Linked DNA regions of Homo sapiens. The protein of the gene in region 5 purifies or fractionates together with the protein of the main gene of each other region. This does not show direct contact. Each region holds a gene or a part of one and is shown on either strand. Other genes may lie near its edges. The genes, in order: KATNA1, NADK, ABHD10, C10orf88, INPP5K, CCM2 and EDC3.

Region 1 (3,500 bases), on a different chromosome or scaffold from region 5:
ATTTACCAGACTCAAAAAAGCAATGATACTAAGTATTGGCAAGGATTTGGGAAAAAGGAAATCTTTACATCAATTTGCAGGAATAAACTGGCATAGTCATTTTGGAGTGCAATCTGGCAGTACTTGGGGAAATTATGTATGCATGTATATGTACATAGACACACACATACACACACATATATATGTATATATACACCCCATGACCCAGCAATCCCACTCTTGTGTAAATCTTCCAGAGAAAGTCTCACACAGATCCACAAAGGAACTTGGTTTTGGACATTAATGACAGAAATCTTTGAGAAATCAAGTAGAGTCAATCTATTTATTCCCTGCTAGGGGAAATATGGTGGATACAGACCACATGGTACCATGTAGCAGACAGAAGCAATGAATAAAATTTACATATAGCAACATGGATGGATCATCAAAATACAGGGTTGGCTAAAAAAAGGTCTCAGACATAGAACAAGATCTAAATCCCAATGTCATTTTATAAATTAAAAATACATATGCTATATAAAATACTCATTTTTAAAGGATGCATACATATCCAAGAAAGTACCTTAAATATATTAGAGAGTCTATGGAAGGTGAGGAGGAAAATATGTGAGTGGAGAAATTGCTTATGACAAGTAGGAGAGAAACAAAAAATAAATATAACAAAAGAAGGGCCTTATATCCATGGATAATCATAGGGAGCCTCTAAGATGGCACTCAATGACCTTTGCCTCTTGGTATCTGTACCCTTATATAATTACTACCCCTTGAATGTGTGCCTGTAACAAATAACATAATACCATTTCCGAGATTAGACTATGACTTGCATCTTGCTTGCTGTCTCTTGCTGGCCCCACTCAAATGGAATACCAGCTCCACAGAGTGAGCTGCCTGGGCAGAGGCTCATGTGGCAAAGAGCTGAGGCAGGATCCAGGCCAACAATCAGTGAGGAACTGAGACCCTCAGTCCACCAGCCCCTGAGGAACTGAATCCTGCCAACAACCATGTGAGTGAGATCAGAAGTGAATCTTTCCTCACTAGAGCCTTGAGATGACTACAGGCCTGGCCAATACCTGATCACAGCTCTGAGAAACACCCTGAATCTAAGGCATCCAGCTAAGTCATGCCCAAATTCCTGACCCAGTGAAACAGTGAAAGAGATAAAAAATGTCTGTTGTTTTAAGTCACCAAGTTTTGGGATAATCTGTTATGAAGCAATATAGCTATGAACTAAGGTCTATGAGTAACTCAAGACTGGGCATCTGAGCTCCAAAAGAAAAGGAATAAAATCCTATCACCTAAATCTTGCCTCCCTGGATTCATGACCACTGATCATATTCTATCTTAATAAAAGCCTAAAGGCCAAGGACCATATCTCTCTGTTATTTACTGATACATCTCTAGCACCTAGAACCATGTCCTCAAATGTAGATCTCAATCAACCTTTGAATGACTGAATACTGCCTAGTTGTTGTCCTTTTTTTTTTTTTTGAGACAGGGTCTCATTCTGCAGCCCAGGCTGGAGTGCAGTGGTGCCATTACAGCTCACTGCAGCCTTGATCTTCTGGGCTCAACTGATCCTGAGTAGCTGGGACCACAGATGTGTACCACCACACCCAGCTAATATATATATATATTTTTTTTTTGGTATGTTTTGTAGAGATGGGGATTTCACCATGTTGCCCAGGCTGGTCTTGAACTCCTGGGCTCAAGCGATCAGCCCACCTTAGCCTCCCAAAGTGCTAGGATTACAGGCGTGAGCCACCATGCCTGGCCAGGTTTTTGTTGTAACTACCAAGAGTTCGTAACCTTGTCCAGTTCCTGACCCTCAGCATGGTCACATTCTTGATCCTCAGCTCATCCCTTCCAAGCTGGGATTACAGCTTGATTCTTGTGTGATTACTTCTGCCCTGAAGCCATCCATGCCCTACAGAGACACCTAGTCTGGGCAAGGGTGTTAGAAAAGTATAATTGGGACCCGCTGCTAAAAGTATATAGTTGTTCTAGATGAGCTTGGATGTCAAAAGCCTTTCATGTCTTTTGACATGAAAGCCTCTCTCCCTCTTTTCCTTAATAGTCTCCCTGGAGATCTTTCTTCCCATTTTCCCACTAAAAAAAATCTAAAATAGTCAGGCATGGTGGTTCACGCCTGTAATCCTAGTACTTTGGGGTGCCAAGGTGGGAGGATTGCTTGAGCCCAGGAGTTCAAGACCAGCCTGGCCAACATAGTGAAACCCTGTCTCTACAAAAAATACAAAAAATTAGCTGGGCATGACAGGGCACACCTGTAGTCCCAGCTACCAGGAGGTTGAGGTGGGAGGATCACCCAAGCCCAGGAGGTCAAAGATGCAATGAGCTGTGATCACACCACTGCACTCTAGCCTGGGTAAAAGAGTAAGGCTCTGTATCAAAAAAATAAAATAAAATAAAATAAAAATAAATTTAAATTAAGTTGTTACTTATATATAGGTGGTCCTCGTTTTTTTCTTGAGGGCCATGATTCAACGGCCCAAAACTCATACAAGTCCCTCCAAGCCTTCTTTAAAGGTTCCATGTTTTGAACTCTTTCTAGTCAGATAAAATTCTTTAGAAGCCAATGAATTGATATTTTCTAACAAACATGAATGTAAAGTCTAATCCAAGGCCACATTAACAAATGACTTGAAAAATCCCTGATTATCAAAGAAACAATGTGCTTGCAGAAAATAGTATTAAAGCACTCTTAGTTCCCTAATTGTTAGCCGAAAATAATTTTCCCCATTCCCTTATTACTCTCTAAGCCCAAAACATCCTTCTCGAATGTCACAACTGTAAATTTATGAAATTATCCCAATTTTCAACAATATATCTTTATCATTGCTAAAATTCCACTGCAGGAAGACTAGAAACTGGCTGTATTAAGCACAATATCTGGCAATATTTGAAGAATTGAATCCATTTGAAATAAAAAGCTGGCCGCGCGCAGTGGCTCACGCCTGTAATCACAGCACTTTGGGAGGCCGAGGCAGGTGGATCACCAGGTCAGATCAAGACCATCCTGGCTAACACAGTGAAACCCCATCTCTACTAAAAATACAAAAAATTAGCCGGGCGTGGTGGCCAGCGCCTGTAGTCCCAGCTACTTGGGAGGCTGAGGCAGGAGAATGGCATGAACCGGGAGGCAGAGCGTGCAAGTGAGCCAAGCTCGCGCCACTGCACTCCAGCCTGGGCGACAGAGCAAGACTCCATCTCAAAAAACAAAAAACAAAAAAAAAAAAAAGAAAGAAAAAAAAGCTGACTGACTCAGTGTAAGCACCATGAACTATAAACACAATCTATTGGTTCAACATTAATAGAACACTTATAAAGATGAGATTGCCCCAAAATTCAGGCTCTTGGTTACACAGATTATTAGAGAGAAGGATAACCATACACTATGCCTGCTTTATTCACAGCAAGTTTTTCCTTTACATTATTCTAACAGAACCACCCTTTTGCTTACATGCCTTGAGTATTTATGAGTT
Region 2 (3,500 bases), on a different chromosome or scaffold from region 5:
AACACCGGGCACAGTGGTCGGGGTCAGAGCCAGCAAAGCGCGGGTGGCTGTGTCAGGGCTGCCACGGACTTTTAAACCTGTGATTTTTACTGTGAGAGTGAGTGAGGTTAAAGTCCGTTCATGCAGGGAGGTAGTGAGCTGTGTGCAGGGGGGGAAGCGGGTCCTTGAGGGGTCCTGGGCTCCCGTGGGGCCAGAAACTGTGTGCAGAGGATCCTAGGGACAGAGTCACCATGTCAACTGGTTTGGGTTTTCGTGGGGGCCTGAGGAGGGCATCAAGCAAAGAGTGGCCCAGCCATGGGCTTTCGTGGTCATTTCTGCCCCACCAGCGTCACTGAGGAGCCAGGCAGGCAAGTGGCCGGGGGCTGGGAAGGGCTGTGGTGCGTGCACTTGGGTCAGCGTGGTGCCCGGGTGGGGGTTGTGGGCCTGAGCCTGCGTGTGATGGGCCAAGCAGGTGAGAGGTGGTCACTCCGGACCCTACTGACCCCTGACCCTGTCTCTGTGGCGCGACCCTAGGCCCTGTGAGCCCGTGGCCACCGAGCACGTTTCCCTGGGAGGTGAAAACACCTTTTTAAAGATTTTTTTTTTTATTTTCTAAGTCATACACCTTTTCCGCAAGAGGGAGATCGCAGCTGGTGTGAACTCTTTTCTCCTCCCCTAAAGGCACATTCAGGACCCCGCGAGCCAGCGGCTGACGTGGAACAAGTCCCCAAAGAGCGTCCTTGTCATCAAGAAGATGAGAGATGCCAGCCTACTGCAGCCGTTCAAGGAGCTCTGCACGCACCTCATGGAGGCACGCGGGGCAGGGGGGAAGGGGGCCTGGGGTGCACATGGAGTTGGGGGGGCCTCCATCCACATCACCGCCCCGTGAGACCATGGGAACCACCTCAAGTGCTGGGCAACGGCTGCTTGTCTGGAACTGGGGACTGAGTGGGGATCTGCCGGGTGTCTGGGTTTGTGTGTGCCGCCATGGCAAGCACCAGACTGGGTGACCAACAATGAGCTGGTGGGCTCGTGGCCCTGGAGGCCGGGAAGTCCGAGATCAAGGGGCCACATCTGACGTGGGCCTTCCTGCTGTGTCTTCTCTTCAGAAGAGCAGGCGTGGGGGTTGCGGCGCCCAGGAAAGCCACTCCTGAAATAACAGCCTTAGTCAATTCCTGAGAGGGAGCCCCCTCCGCCCAGTCATCTCTTAAAGGTCCTGCTTCCTCCTGGCGCGTTGGTGATGAAGTTTCAGCGTGAGCGTGGGGGGGCGGGCATGCAGGCCACGATGCCAGGTCTCTGACCACAGCGCCCGTGAGTCGGGAACCTCCCTGCAGGAGGGTGGGGTCTGCAGGTGGAATGAGCAGGTTGGCACTTTGCTTCCAGGAGAACATGATCGTGTATGTGGAAAAGAAAGTGCTAGAAGACCCTGCCATCGCCAGCGATGAAAGCTTTGGGGCAGTGAAGAAGAAATTCTGTACCTTTCGAGAAGGTGGGCTGTCAGCAGCTCTGTCCTTGGTTTCTCCAGCACAGTTCCCCGCCCCATTGGAAGCTTCTGGCACTGTTGCCCTTGTCATTGGTGTCTGCGCACTGCGCCACAGAGGGGCCACTGTGTGACAGCCTCTTCTTGGTTTTGCTTTGTGTTTCCTAGATTATGATGACATTTCCAATCAGATAGACTTCATCATCTGCCTGGGGGGAGACGGGACGCTGCTGTACGCTTCCTCGCTTTTCCAGGTGAAGCGCTGACATTTCCAGACCCACACCAGGTTCTAGTCTAGGTGCTGCGTAACGAGGGGCTCACAAGCATGGCTTCCATTGCTTTTCACCCCTTTATACGAGAGCAGTCACCTAGAGCGGCCAGCACTGAGGCCCATGGTGGCAGCCCGGTGGGGTGCGACGGTGGGGCCAGGGGCAGTGTGGACACAGTGCTACGGCTGGGGGTGGCCAGCGCCCGCCTGGGACAGCAGGGAGTGGCGCAGGGTGGTGGGTCCTGGGAAACGACCTCGCCTACTGGCCCATCCCCTCTGGGCCTCCCTTGAGCTCCTCTTCCTGGTTTCTCAGCAGCACAGCTCTCCCCTGGGGCTGTAGGGCCACGCTGTGTGGGGGACCCTGGCTCTGCCCTTGGCCCACTGCATGTTGGTGACACCGGAAATGCCCGCAGCCCGCCCTGCTTTTCTCCCCATCTCCCCATTAGCACCTGTGGGGCGCGAGGCTCCGACCCCAAGGCTGCCTCCCACCCGCCCTCGCCAGCTCCCCCAGCCCTCCGTGCCCAGGGGGCCGCTCAGCCCTGCCACCTTTGTTCCTCACCAGCTCCCCACACCAACCTTGGCCCTGGTGGCCCGGCCCACCCTGGCCTGCGACGTCCCCCTCCGCTTGTCCACATGGCCAGTCCCTCCTGCAGAGGGTCGGGGTGCTGTCCCCACAGAGCTGGGTCCCTCCTGAGGTGCTGCTGGAAAGCTGGGTGGTGCGGGGGTGCACGGCGTGGGCACTGAGTGACCTCTCCGTCGGCTCACAGGGCAGCGTCCCTCCGGTCATGGCCTTCCACCTGGGCTCCCTGGGCTTCCTGACCCCATTCAGCTTTGAGAACTTTCAGTCCCAAGTTACTCAGGTGATAGAGGGTGAGTTGGAATGTTCTGGAGCCCACAGGAGCTCTGATCATGGCGCTGCTGTCTCGCTTGCTTGCGGGGGGTTTATTTTCATTTAATGATGCATGGAGCAACATTTAAAGGTTTCAAGATTCAGGGATTTCTAAATCTTGAGTGGTTCAAACCTTTTACTGACACTGAGAAGTTTCAGCAGATCACAGGTTGAAGCTGCCATGTGTGTTGGGCAGAAGTGAGCTGATTCTCACTCTCAGAAGGCACAGAAGTGTCGGCCGGGCGCGGTGGCTCACGCCTGTCATCCCAGCACTGTGGGAGGTCGAGGCGGGCGGATCACGAGGTCAAGAGATGAGACCATCCTGGCCAACACGGTGAAACCCCGTCTCTACTAAAAATACAAAAATTAGCTGGGCGTGGTGGTGCGCACCCGTAGTTCCAGCTACTTGGGAGGCTGAGGCAGGAGAATCACTTGAACCTGGGAGGCAGAGGTTGCAGTGAGCCAAGATCACACCACTGCATTCCAGCCTGGGTGACAGAGTGAGACTCCATCTCAAAATAAAAAGAAAAAGGCACAGAAGTGTGTCAACTTGGGAGAAGAAAGAGCCCTCTGACTCCCACTGGCCTCCCTGGGGTGGGGCCCCTGACCCCACTGACTTCCCTGATGCATGCCCTCTGACTCCTGCTGGACCTCAGGGAACGCAGCTGTTGTTCTCCGGAGTCGGCTGAAGGTCAGGGTGGTGAAGGAGCTCCGGGGGAAGAAGACGGCCGTGCACAATGGGCTGGGTGAGAACGGCTCGCAGGCTGCAGGCCTGGACATGGATGTCGGGAAGCAGGCCATGCAGTACCAGGTGAGTGGAGGCGCCTCGGCCTCGGTGAGGGGCCCAGGGTGGGGCGACTTCGGTCCCAGGGATGAGGACCTTC
Region 3 (2,421 bases), on a different chromosome or scaffold from region 5:
TATAAACTCCTTCTTCAGAGTATTTTGATGGCATGCTCCACACACCTTTCATCTCTACTTCCTTTTTTAGCTATTGGAAAAAGAAAGAAAAATAAAAGTATTTGTGACTTTAGGCAACATTAACACATGCAATAGTTTTAAGTAATCTAATGAAAGCAGTTCTTGAATAAGAGGATAGAGATAACAAAAGTATAACAATAATAATTATCAATAATTACTACATGCAAGGTACTGTGATGGGTATTTTATACATATTATTCCATAAGATTCTGATAATAATTCTGTTATTATTCTATTTTTATAAAAGAGGATATTATGGTTTAGATAAATGAAATACTGTGTGCAACAGTTCAGGGCTAGGCTACTAACTGTTATGGCTAAGACTCAAACTTAAATTTAAATTTATTTAATTTTATCATACACTATCTCAAATCAGATGTTGCTTCACCCCAACTGAAAAGAAAAATGAAGAGGGAGAAAAGCACTACAATTTCTTGGAATCAGTCCAGGTATCATTCATATTTAAATAAAATCAAATCTTAGAATAAACATTGTTTAGATTTCAAAATTGTAAACCTAAAAGTGCTTATAAGTAGCTAAAATGGATATGGCATAGGGAAAGAAGAGAAAGAATCAAACACAGAACTAAGAATAAAAAAATAAGAGTAATTACATTGTAACAATCATACACATACTCATGCAATTTTAGGCTGAATGTAAAGAAATATAGTTTTTCCTTCCAGAGTCCTATAAAAGAGAAAAAATTTGATTTTTGTTCTGGATGACAAAGAAGTCTTCCACATACTTCCTGAAAGCCAAACAATAATATCTGTATATTTATTCCCTTAAAATGAAATATACATGTCCTTTGACTTTTTGAGAACTCTTATTTTTTATATAATTTATCTTAATTTTTCTAAAAAAATTAGAATTTTGTATAATGAGTAACATGCAGTCATTATAGAAAACATAAAAATAATTAAAGAAATAAATCACCCATAATCCTATCTTATGGAGAGAAAAACCATTAATATATGGCTTATTTCCTTCCAATATTTGTCTATATGTGTTTTGGTTTTTGTGTAATATGTAAAATACATACATATTACACATTCATATACAGTTTTCTATGCTGTTTATTTAGTACATATATTTCTGGGTTTAAAAAATTCTATGAAAAGGTTTTAAATGCTGCACAGCAGTCCACCATAATTGACTTAATTAGTTTGACCATCTCATACTGTGGTATTGTCATGAACACTTTTGAGCATAAAAGTTTATTTATATATAATAGATTATTGGAAAGATGATCACAGCTTAAAACTAAAACAAAAATCAAGCTATGAATAGTTTCAAGACTGTTACAATCATATAATATTAAGGGCATTTCTAGAAAAATGGAATGGACATCTTATCAAAAATTTTAAAAAATAAGGAAAGAAAAGCTACACATATTTGAAAAATTTAAAGTTTCAACAAATATACTATGATTTTCCCATGTTTAAAATTGTTAATTTATTGCAAATGTAAAAAGGAAAACAAGAACTTAAAAAATATGTATGACATAATATAATCTATATGTACTTAGGCTTTAATGTATTTTTAATTCCAAAAAGACTTAATAATTCAGTAAAAAAAAAACTGTACTTCTAAATATGTCTCCAAATGATTTAAAATTAATGAAATTCTACAAAACTATAAAATGTATATAAATCTATATCAATATCATGGCATTCTCTGTATTAAAACAACATATGAACCAAATATTTAAAGTAAAGATGACATTTAGCTATCCTCAAGCTACTCAGGATTGTTTCTGAATTTGTAAATACTTCAGCAGATAGAACTTAGTCCCACTGGTTATTAGCTGAAGTGGAGGCTTTGCTAATTAAGGCGACACTGAATTAATAATAGTTTCATTTTAAGCATCCCTGGCCCCCAACTAGCTCTGCTACCTGCCACTGAATTGAATGAAAATGGTCCATCTGAAGAACAAAGTTAACTTTATAAAATGTTGTATGTCTCAAGTCCTCAAGAACAAAAAGTTCAGAAACAGCAAAGACATTACCCAAAGAAAATGTACAATATATTAAGTTCTACATCAACAAAACTTATCAAGGCAATGTGGTTCAGAAGCTTACATTCCCAACAGCTGTGCATCATGTCTGAGGCCCTCTAGTGTCCAAAGAAGGTGATAATGATTAGAGTCAGTTAAAGAGGATGGTCAAGTTCTTAGAGAAGAAATGAGAAATGCTGGGCTTACTATTCCCAGGGTTATAAAAGATAGTAAAAATCTCCACATCTGCTCCGTTGACATTGTTAGGGCTAGCTGTTTATGTGGAGAAGAGATAGCGGTCTTAGTGTTGGTGCTCTTTCCTTATACATGCTTTTAAGTTAACCAAGGGCTCAACATGCTTCTGT
Region 4 (3,500 bases), on a different chromosome or scaffold from region 5:
AGCCTCCACTGTTAACATGCTATTAAAAATTTTGAAGAAACTTAAATATCCATGAATAGGTAACTGCATAATATTCATAAAACCATAGAAAGCTGTATTTATTGATATCCTTTCAAGTGAAAAATGTTCCTGAGCAACATATGCAGTATGAAAGCATTTAGAGAGAACTGTGTCCATATACTTACAAAGATATGTGTATGTGTATATGTATAACTACATATATTCTGTATACACACAATAGAGATTTCTGAAAAAATAATAGTTTATCTTTAAATATATTGTAGGATTTAGGAAAGTATGAATTTCCTATACCTTTTTGCTTTTTAATTTTTTTGTATCACCTTTAATAATCAGAAAGAAATTAAATAATAAAGTCATTTTTATTTTGAAGGAGAAAAAAGCAAGAGTATAACTCCTAAATAACTGAATATGTTTTCTTTGAGAAAATGGGTCATATCCTTTCATTCAGATAACATTAAATGACAATCATATGCTACACCCTTTGATATAGAATTCCTATTCAAGAATTCTAAATTGCTAAAGCAAAAGCAAATCAAAGCCAGCAAACTGAACTTCAAATAGAAGGAAATAAAAAATAATCTTAATACTTATTGAGAAATCACAAAGGTTTGGATTGCATTTCAGACTCACAAAACTTGGCGTGTTGAACTTTAATCAAACTTTCGAGAAAACAAGTAATTCCAAGGCACAGGTAAGCCAGAGAGAAGCCAAAACTTCTGAGGTCCTTCCTTTCCCCCAAGAGAAGTCCTGCCCAAACAACATGTGTGATCACACCACTTACACGGAAGGAGTTGATTTGGTCATGAAACATTCCCATTTTATGTGCAGAAAGTTACACAGCTTATATGACATTCTCTATGCCTTAGAATGTATAGATGCCTAGTTTGTCATCAATAAGCAATCCTAGAGAACCAGGTACATCCTGTAAGAATCACTCCATAAATAAGGACTTTTCTTACTAGGAAGGAAGTCTTCCATTAGCATGTTTAAAAGGACACAGAACTGTTTATCACCTTCTTTCTTCCCCAGGGTGTCCCAGAAATGTCCCTGCATTAGTGGTGAGAAGAAAGTAAGTTATTGTACAGTGTACATAGCAGTAACCCATGAGTGTTGGCTGAGGGTGGGGTGGCATGGGGGAGAGCCTTCTGTGTTGCTACATGCATAAAAAAACTCTACAAGGATACACGCCAAACTGTTAGCTGTGTATCCTCTGGGGTATAGAATGACAGCTGGAAAACATTTTTAATTTTTACCTAACACTTCTGTATTGGTTAAAATTCATGGCAAAGAAAAATTATTTATAAATAAAACTATAAAAATTTAAAGACACAGCCAAAATAAAAATATATCTAGTTTCATTTTTTCCTAGTGTCAAGATTTTAAAATAATCAGACAGTAAACTAATTAATATCCTCTAATCGTTACCAAAATTTGTTCACAAACAATTGCTTCCTTTTTAAAATCTTCCATTAAAAGAGTTATTATCATGTAATCCAGCACATAAACAGAACCAAAGACAAAAACCACATGATTATCTCAATAGATGCAGAAAAGGCCTTTGACAAAATTCAACAACCCTTCATGCTAAAAACTCTCAATAAATTAGGTATTGATAGGACATATCTCAAAATAATAAGAGCTATCTATGACAAACCCACAGCCAATATCATACTGAATGGACAAAAACTGGAAGCATTCCCTTTGAAAACTGGCACAAGATAGGGATGCCCTCTCTCACCACTCCTATTCAACATAGTGTTGGAAGTTCTGGCCAGGGCAATTAGGCAGGAGAAGGAAATAAAGGGTATTCAATTAGGAAAAGAGGAAGTCAAATTGTCCCTGTTTGCAGATGACATGATTGTATATCTAGAAAACCCCATCGTCTCAGCCCAAAATCTCCTTAAGCTGATAAGCAACTTCAGCAAAGTCTCAGGATACAAAATCAATGTACAAAAATCACAAGCATTCTTATACACTAACAACAGACAAACAGAGAGCCAAATCATGAGTGAACTCCCATTCACAATTGCTTCAAAGAGAATAAAATACCTAGGAATCCAGCTTACAAGGGATGTGAAGGACCTCTTCAAGGAGAACTACAAACCACTGCTCAAGGAAATAAAAGAGGATACAAACAAATGGAAGAACATTCCATGCTCATGGGTAGGAAGAATCAATATCGTGAAAATGGCCATACTGCCCAAGGTAATTTACAGATTCAATGCCATCCCCATCAAGCTACCAATGACTTTCTTCACAGAATTGGAAAAACTATTTTAAAGTTCATATGGAACCAAAAAAGAGCCCGCATCGCCAAGTCAATCCTAAGCCAAAAGAACAAAGCTGGAGGCATCACACTGCCTGACTTCAAACTATACTACAAGGCTACAGTAACCAAAACAGCATGGTACTGGTACCAAAACAGAGATATAGATCAATGGAACAGAACAGAGCCCTCAGAAATAACGCCGCATATCTACAACTATCTGATCTTTGACAAACCTGAGAAAAACAAGCAATGGGGAAAGGATTCCCTATTTAATAAATGGTGCTGGGAAAACTGGCTAGCCATATGTAGAAAGCTGAAACTGGATCCCTTCCTTACACCTTATACAAAAATCAACTCAAGATGGATTAAAGACTTAAACGTTAGACCTAAAACCATAAAAACCCTAGAAGAAAACCTAGGCATTACCATTCAGGACATAGGCATGGGCAAGGACTTCATGTCTAAAACACCAAAAGCAATGGCAACAAAAGCCAAAATTGACAAATGGGATCTAATTAAACTAAACAGCTTCTGCACAGCAAAAGAAACTACCATCAGAGTGAACAGGCAACCTACAGAATGGGAGAAAATTTTTGCAACCTACTCATCTGACAAAGGGCTAATATCCAGAATCTGCAATGAACTCAAACAAATTTACAAGAAAAAAACAAACAACCCCATCAAAAAGTAGGCAAAGGACATGAACAGACACTTCTCAAAAGAAGACATTTATGCAGCCAAAAAACACATGAAAAAATGCTCACCATCACTGGCCATCAGAGAAACGCAAATCAAAACCACAATGAGATACCATTTCACACCAGTTAGAATGGCAATCATTAAAAAGTCAGGAAACAGCAGGTGCTGGAGAGAATGTGGAGAAATAGGAACACTTTTACACTGTTGGTGGGACTGTAAACTAGTTCAACCATTGTGGAAGTCAGTGTGGCGATTCCTCAGGGATCTAGAACTAGAAATACCATTTGACCCAGCCATCCCATTACTGGGTATATACCCAAAGGATTATAAATCATGCTGCTCTAAAGACACATGCACACATATATTTATTGTGGCATTATTCACAATAGCAAAGACTTGGAACCAACCCAAATGTCCAACAATGATAGACTGGATTAAGAAAATGTGGCACATATACACCATGGAATACTATGCAGCCATAAAAAATGGTGAGTTCATGTCCTTTGTAGGG
Region 5 (2,768 bases):
ATTCCCTCCTCTGAGGCCAAGTGTTCCTCACTGTGCCCTTCCAACATAGTGGGGAAGGTGGGGCACCCAGAGGGGGTGGGCATGGAACTCCACTGGGCTGCTCCAACGGACCTTGGCTGGCCATCAGGAAAGAGGGCCGAACACCAGTCGGCGGGTGGCTGGCCCTGTCGGAATCCCATGGGGCCCAGCGCTGGGGGGTAGGAATGGCGGAGAGCAGAGGCACGGCTGAGAGGCTTAAGGAGGCGGCCAGGCAGCTGCTCTCAGGCCTCCCGCCTTATCTGACCCAAAGCCCCACATGGGGGGATGCTCTGGTGAGAACAGCTGTGAACGTGCAAGAACACAACGCAGATACCAGCGGGGGCCAGGCACGGTGGCTCACACCCATAATCCCAACAGTTTGGGAGGATCACTTGAGCCCAGGAGTTCGAGACTAGCCTGGGCAACATAGTGAAACCCTGTGTCTACAAAAAATACATAACAGCCAGGCGTGGTGGCGTGCACCTGTAGTCCCGCTACTAGGGAGGCTGAGGTGGAAGGATCAATCACTTGAGCCCAGGAGGTGGAGGCTTCAGTGAGCTATGATACCGCCACTGCACTCCAGCCTGGGCGGCAGAACGAGACCCTAACACACACACACACACGCCAGTAAACCTGTATGAAAACGTGAAGGCTGAGGGGCAGCAGCCTGAAGGAGGCCAACACCACCTTGGTCATTCAGATAGCAAGATACAAGGACGCAGGGATGGAGGGAGCGCCCGTTGCAACTTGATCCAGATAGATTTAGGACAAATAAAAGAAGTCCTACTTCTCACATTGGGTAATAAGCCTAATGGAACTCATTAGCCCCAAGGGAGAATACCCAAAGGAAATGGAAACCTTTTCACAAAGGGTTTGAACACGGTTTTGACAGACAGAGCCATCAACGGCTCCTAAGAGGAGCTGGGATATCCGACCTGGCAGGAAAGGCAATCATGGCCTCCACAGGTCTCCCCTGGGGGACTGGCTGACATTCGAATCCAGGGATGGAGGGCTTGGGGATGTGGCCAGCATAGCTATTCCTCTGGCAAGTATCAGGCAGCCCAGAAGTTCACCTCCAAGTCGAACGTGCCGGAGACAGGCTTGTGGTCGCTGATGCCGTACGTCATGTGGCTGCTGTAGCCCCTCAGAGACAAGGAGAAGTGTGACGCCGGCGGTATGGGAGTGTCGGGGCCAGCACAGGGCTGCCGCTTCAGCCTCCACAGGATGCGATCGGTCCATGCAGGCTTGCGTTTTTTCTCACTGCAGGGGCAGGGGGCATAAAGAGGAAGAATGGGGAAAGAAGAAAGGGTTGGCTAAGAGCAGAAATGAGCCCACATGAGCTTGCTGGAGCCCCTAACTCCAGCAACTACTGGCAGCCACAGACCCCCGGGGCCAGAGCCGGAGGGAGCAAGGCAGCAGGCAGGAAGGTGCCTAACAGAATCCAAAGTATGCCAGCACTTGTCAGACTTAGCCAGGACCCTCTGTATGTCTAGCTCATGTTTTTATGGATCAAATTGTGACTCAGAAACATTCCATTTCAAAGCTTTGCTTCTTTCTTGAGCAAAAGCAGCAGTGGATCAAAGCAGCTGAGGTTTGAGATTCTGAGGCTGGACACACCTGAGCTTGTATTTGGCTGCCCTGCATACTAGAAGTATGCCTCAGGAAAGGGAAGGGAAGCATTTAGGAAATGCTTACCAGAGGATGCCTGTGATCAGTACTGTTACCACACCTTTTTTTAAATTTAATTTTATTTTTTTAAAGAGACAGGGTCTTGCTCTGTCATGCAGGCTGGAGTGCAGTGGTGACATCACAGCTTACTGTAGCCTCAAACTACTGGGCTCAGGCGATCCCACCTCAGCCTCCTGAGTGGCTGGGACGGTAAGTGCGTGGCACTATGCCTGGCTAATTTTTAAACATTTTTTTGTAAAGACAGTATGTTTCCCAGCCTAGTTTTGAACTGCTGGCCTCAAAGGATCTTCCCATCTCAGCTTCCCAAAGTGTTGGGATTAGAAGGCATGGACCACTGTGCCTGGGTGTATCATGCTCTCTTTACAGGTGGAGAAACTGAGACTTAGCTTAGAGGGGAAGCACCTTTCCCAAAGTCACAAGGTACTAAGTGGTGGAGCCAGGATTCAGGGCCAGCCAGCATGACCACAGAGCATGTGCTCTTAACCACCAAACTAAACTAACCTCTCTCAGGCCTCAACTTCCTCGCCTGCCAGTGGAGGGAATAACAGTAGTTACCATGAAGGGTTGCTAGGATGAGTCAATGAGATAAAGTACATAAAATGTTTAGCACAGTGCTTGGTGCAAAACGAGCTCGCCATGCACACTGGCCTTTATGATTTCCTCTCAAGAGTCGACTGAGAGGCCGCGCGCGGTGCTCACGCCTGTAATCCAAGCACTTTGGGAGGCCAGGGTGGGTGGATCATGAGGTCAGGAGATCGAGACCATCCTGACTCTCTACTAAAAGTACAAACATTAGCCAGGCATGGTGGCAGGTGCCTGTAATCCCAGCTACTCGGGAGGCTGAGGCAAGATAATTGCTTGAAGCTGGCAGGCGGAGGTTGCAGTGAGCTGAGATCATACCACGGCACTCTAGCCTGGGCGACAGAGCAAGACTCTATCTCCAAAAAAAAAGGAGTCGACTGAGAGACCTCCCACCTGTTCTTCACTTGCCAGTTTCCCTGAGGGGTTTGGAAAAGGTAATACGCTCCGGAGACAAAATGCATTCCTCCTCTAGGTAACTG
Region 6 (3,753 bases), on a different chromosome or scaffold from region 5:
ATGACGGCACAGGGAGGGTCGGCAGAGTTGCACACTGGCCTCTGAAGACCCAGCCCCCAGGCTCCAAGGTGACGAGATCTCAGAGAGCATTTCTGTTCCACGGGGTAGTGCAGGCTGCTTGAGGAAAAAACCTGCAGCATGGGGTTGGGGGGAGGGGGGGTGCGGGGCACAGCCAGTGACCTTGAAGGATTCAGTGCACAGGATGTAAAGATCAAGGTGCCCCCAACACATGCCACACACGCTACCCTCACACACGCTGCCCACGAAAGGCCTCAGAACACCCGCTCCTGCCCCACATCCACACTGCTCAAGTCCAAATCAAGTCCTTCCTGTGGCACAAGAGCCTGTTGCCTCCTCCACCCCAGCCCCCAGGGACCACTGCCGAGTCCCAGGTGCTGCAGGGCAGATGGGGACCCAGGGACAGAGGCTAGAGCGGACACCCCTCCTGGCACCGATGGCTTTCACCCAACTGGATCAGAAACATGCTTGGCAACCAGAGATTAAATTATTCACATTGCAGTAAACTTCTTTTTAAGGTCTCTGAGAGTTACAATAGGAACATCATGTGCAAAACTGACAGCCGTCCAAGGGCCCAGCCGACAGGACTGGCTCTCCCTGCCCGCTCGGCCGGGCCCTCCCCGAGCGGGGACACACTGCAGGGCTTGGCTGAGCCCTGGTGGACAAGGCAAAGAGCCTTCCACCCCGCACTGAGGCTCGTGTCCCTCGGCAGCTCCCTGCTCCTTCACAGTAGAGGACCTGGGCCGCCCGGGGCCATCTGCACCGGGCGCCTCTCCCTGGCCACCACCAAGGGCTGACACGCAGGTCTGGGCAGCTCCTTCTGGGAAGGCCTATGACGACTGCGCGGAAGGTGTGGGTGCCCCCCCATCCACTGTCCATCATGCTGAGTCCTGGTCCATGCTGCAGCCCAGCGCCTCAATGTCGCTGCTGATGTCCGAGATCATGCGGTCCCACTCATCCCCCTCTGAGGGTGCCGACCGGTCATCAGAGCTGCCCGTGGCCCTGTTCCCATTGGTGGTGGAACTGGATGTGGTGCTCAGGGCCCGCCGGTGCCTGCCAAAGCTGTCAGTGATGATGCCGCGGCCATCCTTCACGCCAATGGTCTCCAGGAAGTTCTCGAAGTGCTGGCTGTCCTTCTCAGGGATGAAGGGCCTCAGACCTGCAGACACACAACACCCAGCATGGCACCTCCAGTTCGGCTCAGCCCACTCAGCTCTTCTCTCAGGGCTCAAAGCCCCCTGACAGGGCCACAGCTGCCCCTGGTGCATGGCCTTGGGGACCCTGATGCCATGCTCACTGCATCTAGCATCCTGGTTGAAATCATGCTTCCTGGGGCCAGACAGTTTGGCTAAAACCTCAACTCTTGACAGACACTGCTGCTGGCCCTGACAGCTTACTGCCTCTGCCACATGCACACTCCCTGGCCTCAAGGCACCAGCACAGGCCAAGAACCTGTGGCCTCCTCTCATTCTCTATTAGTCCTCACAAAGGACCCATTTTACAGTGGGGAAAGCTGAGGCCCAGAGCAGTGCTCAAAGCCACCTGCTGGCACCCGGCAACAAGGGTGCAGTCCTCAGAGGCAGGCCTCATGCCAAAGTCCAGTTTCCCTGCCATGACCTAGGTGACTGTCCCAACTCAGAGGGCTGCCCTCTTATTTGGGAAGCCTAGTGTGTCTCTCAGAATCTCTACTCCCCGATGTGGAGGGGCAGACAGAGTCCCATGCCAGGAGGCAACGCAGGGCCCAGCACAGAAGGGGCAGGCACTGCTTAGACAGAACCTATTGTACAGACAGGCTGCCCCAGCCTCCAGCCCTTCACGCTCCTAAGAGCGGGGAGCCCTGGGCAGGCAATCCACGTTTGCCACTGCCAGGTCGGTACGATGGTTAACAAACCCACCTTCCTTGGTTTGCAGGGAAAACAGGCCAGGACCCAGAAGCCTTCAACTGGCTACTAGCAACACATTACCGCAAACTTGCTGTGTTCTAAGTGTCGGCAGAGGGAAACCACAGCTAAGTCACCGCCCCTGAGAGGTGTGGGGCCAACATCCAACTCTGCTGCTCAGACCACACAGCCCTCTAGCCGCACTGACCTAATGTGCCGAGCATTTTAGGGGTCTTGGCAAACGCTGGTCCTTCCGCCTTGAAGTCCTACACATTCACCAAAACCCATGCCTCTCTGGCTCCTCCAGCACTGTTTTCCTAAATCTCAGGGTTGTGTTCACTCCCAGCCCTGCTCCTGGGGGATCTCTGCTACTTCCTGGCAGGGCCCACCCAGCTCAGCTTGAGTTCCCAGGAGAATGAAGGCCTGTCGGTGGGCCCCCAACAGTACCTGGGAAAAGCCCTTCTGACTAATCACAGCAGATTCCCCGATCTCTGGACTCTGCTCTCATGCCATCTCTGGTTCAAATCTCCCATCCCTGATGGAGCCCCTGCTGCACCCACTGAGGGGTCCGTGTGCACATTCCCAGGAGGGATCAGCCTCTCCAAGCCAGGTTTGGACAAGCCACCCTCTTTCCAGGGCCCACTCACCAAGCAGCAGGAACTTGCGGCTGTCCCCGTAGAGCTGCCGCAGGTTGATGCAGAACTCGTGGATAGAGGCCCCATTGCGGTACTCGTGCAGCAGTGCTGCAAACTGCTGGATCTCCTGTGATGACAGCTTGGTGCGCAGCTGCAAGAGAGCAGAGCCAGATAGGGGGCTGGGCACAGTAGGCAAGAGTCGGCAGTCGGGCCCACCTTGCCACAGCCACTAACCCCAGCCAGAGCACCAGCTGTCTCTGGCTTCACCTCTGCACAGGCTGGGGCATCAGAATGACCACAATGTGTCCCCATCCTACCAGACCTGGCACGGGGCCACCCAGAGGAGACCAAGGCACCCGGGCAGCTCCACTCTCCTGAGCTGGAACACAGAGTGCATGGGAGGGACAGGAGCCAGCAGGGCAGGGTGGAAGTTGGCAACCTGGCCCGGGGCCAATGCCTGTGCCCTTAGGCTACACACAGGCACACAGGCAAATCAGGAAGACTTGAGTTTGCAATGACAGAACTATATAAGATGGGGAGGATAAAAATGTCTGGCCATGTGGCCTTGCAGGGGCCACCGTTCCCTCCCCTCCCCCAGGACCCAAGCACAGGCCCACAGTCCAGCCCTGACGGCCACAGCACTCCCAACTCAGCCCCACTGACTGATGCTCTCCTAGACTATCCCCAGGAAAAGGCAGTGATGTCAGCAAAATTGACCAAGAGTGCTCTAGGTGACCTCACTCACTGCAGCCTGCCCTGCACTGCTCCTCCTCCTCCTCCCCTTCCCCCCATCCTCCCTGGGGCACCCCCTCCCTCATGCAGCCCAGCGTCCCTGCAGCGGAGGCCTACCGTCAGCATGTAGTCCTGCAGCAGCTCAGTGGCGCTGGCGCTCAGCTCGCTCTCACTGATGGTCTTGCTGTGGGGTGATGCACCACCCACATCCACAGATTCAGGGAAGCAGCTGCGAAAGAATGTGGTATGTGAGCGGGTGGCTTCCCCGACCCTCCATCCCACACACGTTTCAGGAAACCTAGTCCATGCCGTGTGTGTGGGTCCCTGTCCTTGAACAGAGGAATGTAAGTGATGATGATGATGATGAGAGGAGAGCTGACTGGGCATGCAGGGTGGTCAGCTTGGCCTGGTCCTGGGGCTCCCCGGGGGCATGGCTCTGAGTTGGGCTCTGAGTGAAGAGAGGGAGTACACAGGTCAAGGCAGTGGGC
Region 7 (3,500 bases), on a different chromosome or scaffold from region 5:
TCTACTAAAAATACAAAATTGGCCGGGCGCAGTGGCTCACGCCTGTAATCCCAGCACTTTGGAAGGCTGAGGCAGGTGGATCACAAGGTCAGGAGTTCGAGACCAGCCTGACCAACAAGGTGAAACCCCATCTCTACTAAAAATACAAAAATTAGCCAAATGCGGTGGCATGTTCCTGTAATCCCAGTTACTCAGGAGGCTGAAGCAGGAGAATCGCTTGAACCCGGGAGGCGGAGGATGCAGTGGGCTGAGATCGTGCCATTGCACTCCAGCCTGGGCAACGAGAACAAGACTCGGTCTCAAAAAAAAAAAATTAGCCGGGCATGGTGGTGCATGCCTGTAATCCCAGCTACTTGGGAGGCTGAGGCAGGGGAGTCACTTGAAATTGGGAGGCGAAGGTTGCAGTGAGCTGAGATCACACCATTGCACTCCAGCCTGGGCAACAAGAACAAGACTCCATCTCAAAAAAAATTAAATAGGCCAGCCACGGTGGCTCACTCCTATAATCCCAGCACTTTCAGAGGCCGAGGCAGGTGGATCACCTGAGGAGTTTGAGACCAGCCTGGCCAACATGGTGAAACCCCATCTCTACTAAAAATACAAAAATTAGCCAGGTGTGGTGGTGGGTGCCTGTAATCCCAGCTATTTAGGAGGCTGAGGTGGGAAAACCACTTGAACCCAAGACGCAGAGGATACAGTGAGCAGAAATTGCGCCACTGCACTCCAGCCTGCTAACAAGAGCAAGACTTTGTCTCAAAATAAATACATAAATGAAGGGAAAGGGGCAAAAAAGCATATACAGCACTCCTCCAGGCCAGCCGCAATGGCTCACGCCTATAATCCCAGCACTTTGGGAGGCCGACGTGGACGGCATGGTGGCATGCACCTGTAATCCCAGCTACTCAGGAGGCTGACAGGATAACTGCTTGAACCCAAGAGGCGGAGCCTGCAGTGAGCCGACACCGCACCACTGCACTCCAGCCTGGGCAACAGAGCAAGACTCCGTCTAGAAAAAAATAAAAAATAAATAAAAATAAAGCACTCCTGGCTGGGTGCAGTGGCTCACAGTTGTAATTCCAGGAGTTTGGGAAGCCAAGGCAGGAGCATCACTTGAGTCCAGGAATTCAAGACCAGGCTGGGCAACACAGCAAGACCCTGTCTCAAAAAAAAAAACAAAAAACAGTATGCCCCATTAGAAACACTAAGTCTGAAAGAGTCCAGCTCTAGGGATTAATCAAACTCTAGATAGTTCTCTAGTGATCTAACTGAGCCAGTATCATAAAACTATGCGGACAGAACCGAAGATTAAAAGAACAATGAATTAGCAGGCTCATACAGGCTTTTTTTTGTTACATTTATTATAGAATGAAACAGAGCCTTGCTCTGTCGCCCAGGCTAGAGTGCAGTGGCGCAATCTTGGCTCACTGCAACTTCTGCCTCCCAGGTTCAATCAGGCAATTCTCCTTCCTCAGCCTCCTGAGTAGCTGGGACTACAGGCGCCCGCCACCACACCCAGCTAATTTTTGTATTTTTAGTAGAGATGGGGTTTCACCATGTTGGCCAGACTGATCTCGAACTCCTGCCTTCTGGTGATCTGCTCACCTCAGCCTCTGCACTAGGATTACAGGCATGAGCCACTGTGCCTGGCCCTTGGGTAAATTTTCAATGCAACACAATTTCAACAATAATGATGATGGTAAAAAAGCACAAAATACACACATTTTAGGCTTCTTTTCCCTTCCTGATCAACCTTTGCCTAATGTCACAAAAGCATGAGTTTCCTTTCCTATCATTTATAATCCATCATAATTCTACTCAGATGCTTAGATAGATGCAGAATAAAAAGCACCAGAAATTAACCAGATATGAAAAGGCTTTTACTGTTTTATTTAACATATATCTTTAAGACACTGATGTTGTGCATTCAAGTTTATATTATGGTAGTAGTAACTGAATAGAATTTTTAACACTTTGAAAATGTGGATACTCGTTTATAAGTGTTCTTCTATGTAGTTAATATTAATAGAAACTTTTAAAAATATAACCACTGAATGTGTAACAAACTTCCCTTTCCTCAGAAACTTCCCTTGGTAAAATAGCATTATTCAAAACTCCTCAAACAGGTTTATTCTATAAAGAAAATTATGCTATTTACAGAAAACAGTAAATCTAAAACAAGTACAGTGCCCATCAACTGGGTTCCTAATCGGACTAGGGAAGGGGCTCCATCAATTATACAGCTAACACCTCCACGTCAAAAGAAGTACAGGAGATACAGGAGCTACAAGGAACCAATCTTGTCTTTTATTTTCTACTTTTCTATCAAGGTATAACATATACAGTAAGTCAGTCTACATATTTTAAGTGTACACCTCCCTGAAATTTTACATATCAATTCACCCATGTGACCACCACTCAAAACAAGACAGACTATTTCCAACACCTCAAAAGGCTCCATTGTGTCCTCCTACAGGTAGTTATTATTCTGACATCTATCATGAAAGATTATTTGAGCCTGATTTTGAGCTTCACATAAACAGAATCATAAAGGTTCTCTTTCAGAGTGTTTGTCTTCTTTTGCTCAAAAGTACATCTGTGAGGCCAGGCATGGTGGCTCATGCCTGTAATCCCAGCACTTTGGGAGGCCACGGCGGGTGGATCACTTGAGGTCAAGAGTTCAATACCAATCTAGCCAACATGGCAAAACCCTGTCTCTACTAAAAATACAAAAAATTAGCTGGGCGTGGTGGCACATGCCTGTAATCCCAGCTACTCAGGAGGCTGAGGCACAAGAATCGCTTGAACTGGGGAGGCGGAGGTTGCAGTGAGCCAAGATCCTGCTACTGCACTCCAGTATGGGTGACAGAGCGAGATGCTGTCTCAAAAAAAAAAAAAAAAAAAGTACATTTGTGAGATTCATCCCCATTGTTGCATGTATCAGAAGTTTATTCTTTCTCATAGCTGTGCTGTTTTCTGTAAGCATGCCTCAATGTATTTATCCATTCTACTGCTGATACATAGTTGGGTTATTTCTAGTTCTGACTTATTACAAATAATATTCTTAAACTGTATACAGTATATTTCTGCGATGGACAAATACATCCATTTCTACTGGGCATATAACACAGGAAGTCATGTTATATTTATGACTTTATTAGGAACCACTGAACAGTTTTCCAAAGTGGTTGTACCATTTTGTATTACCATCTACATTTATACAACCCACCATACGTGAGTTCTTTCTGCTCCTCATCTTGCCAAAACTTGGTACTATTGTTCTCTTCAACTTACTCATTCTGGTGGGGTGCAATGGTTTTGGTATTTTCTTAAACATACTTCTTATTTACTCTTGCTTCATTGATACTGTTATTCTCCCAATAAATTATTCCTAAAATTGTAATGACTACTGAATTCAGAGATGTTGTGAATTACTATTCAGTCAAGAACTTGCTACCAAAGTTCATTTAGTCTTATTTGTCTTCCTTCTCCCTCCATTTCTT

The links.
Region 1: the proteins of INPP5K (region 5) and KATNA1 purify together in Homo sapiens (affinity purification with mass spectrometry; 2 studies listed by BioGRID and IntAct, with this or other methods). This does not show direct contact.
Region 2: the proteins of INPP5K (region 5) and NADK purify together in Homo sapiens (co-immunoprecipitation; one large-scale study listed by IntAct). This does not show direct contact.
Region 3: the proteins of INPP5K (region 5) and ABHD10 purify together in Homo sapiens (affinity purification with mass spectrometry; 2 studies listed by BioGRID and IntAct, with this or other methods). This does not show direct contact.
Region 4: the proteins of INPP5K (region 5) and C10orf88 purify together in Homo sapiens (co-immunoprecipitation; one large-scale study listed by IntAct). This does not show direct contact.
Region 6: the proteins of INPP5K (region 5) and CCM2 purify together in Homo sapiens (co-immunoprecipitation; one large-scale study listed by IntAct). This does not show direct contact.
Region 7: the proteins of INPP5K (region 5) and EDC3 purify together in Homo sapiens (co-immunoprecipitation; one large-scale study listed by IntAct). This does not show direct contact.

Annotation. Positions count from the first base shown.
Region 1 is NC_000006.12:149,642,215-149,645,714, forward strand, and holds part of KATNA1 (katanin p60 ATPase-containing subunit A1), read right to left. Parts: intron 1-3,500. UniProt on the Homo sapiens protein: Catalytic subunit of a complex which severs microtubules in an ATP-dependent manner. Microtubule severing may promote rapid reorganization of cellular microtubule arrays and the release of microtubules from the centrosome following nucleation.
Region 2 is NC_000001.11:1,754,471-1,757,970, reverse strand, and holds part of NADK (NAD kinase), read left to right. Parts: intron 1-660; coding exon 661-790; coding exon of another isoform or gene 791-864; intron 865-1,088; exon of another isoform or gene 1,089-1,192; intron 1,193-1,313; coding exon of another isoform or gene 1,314-1,362; coding exon 1,363-1,468; intron 1,469-1,627; coding exon 1,628-1,713; intron 1,714-2,494; coding exon 2,495-2,597; intron 2,598-3,272; coding exon 3,273-3,427; intron 3,428-3,500.
Region 3 is NC_000003.12:111,989,026-111,991,446, reverse strand, and holds part of ABHD10 (palmitoyl-protein thioesterase ABHD10, mitochondrial isoform 1 precursor), read right to left. Parts: intron 748-2,421; coding exon of another isoform or gene 706-747; exon of another isoform or gene 696-705; intron 71-695; coding exon 1-70. UniProt on the Homo sapiens protein: Acts as an acyl-protein thioesterase that hydrolyzes fatty acids from acylated residues in proteins.
Region 4 is NC_000010.11:122,940,728-122,944,227, forward strand, and holds part of C10orf88 (ATPase PAAT), read right to left. Parts: intron 1-3,500. UniProt on the Homo sapiens protein: ATPase that regulates mitochondrial ABC transporters ABCB7, ABCB8/MITOSUR and ABCB10. Regulates mitochondrial ferric concentration and heme biosynthesis and plays a role in the maintenance of mitochondrial homeostasis and cell survival.
Region 5 is NC_000017.11:1,496,845-1,499,612, forward strand, and holds part of INPP5K (inositol polyphosphate 5-phosphatase K), read right to left. Parts: intron 1,279-2,768; coding exon 1,092-1,278; intron 1-1,091. UniProt on the Homo sapiens protein: Inositol 5-phosphatase which acts on inositol 1,4,5-trisphosphate, inositol 1,3,4,5-tetrakisphosphate, phosphatidylinositol 4,5-bisphosphate and phosphatidylinositol 3,4,5-trisphosphate.
Region 6 is NC_000007.14:45,073,201-45,076,953, reverse strand, and holds the end of CCM2 (cerebral cavernous malformations 2 protein), read right to left. Parts: intron 3,495-3,753; coding exon 3,383-3,494; intron 2,685-3,382; coding exon 2,546-2,684; intron 1,178-2,545; coding exon 897-1,177; 3' UTR 501-896; downstream 1-500. UniProt on the Homo sapiens protein: Component of the CCM signaling pathway which is a crucial regulator of heart and vessel formation and integrity. May act through the stabilization of endothelial cell junctions. May function as a scaffold protein for MAP2K3-MAP3K3 signaling.
Region 7 is NC_000015.10:74,686,025-74,689,524, forward strand, and holds part of EDC3 (enhancer of mRNA-decapping protein 3), read right to left. Parts: intron 1,156-3,500; exon of another isoform or gene 1,067-1,155; intron 1-1,066. UniProt on the Homo sapiens protein: Binds single-stranded RNA. Involved in the process of mRNA degradation and in the positive regulation of mRNA decapping. May play a role in spermiogenesis and oogenesis.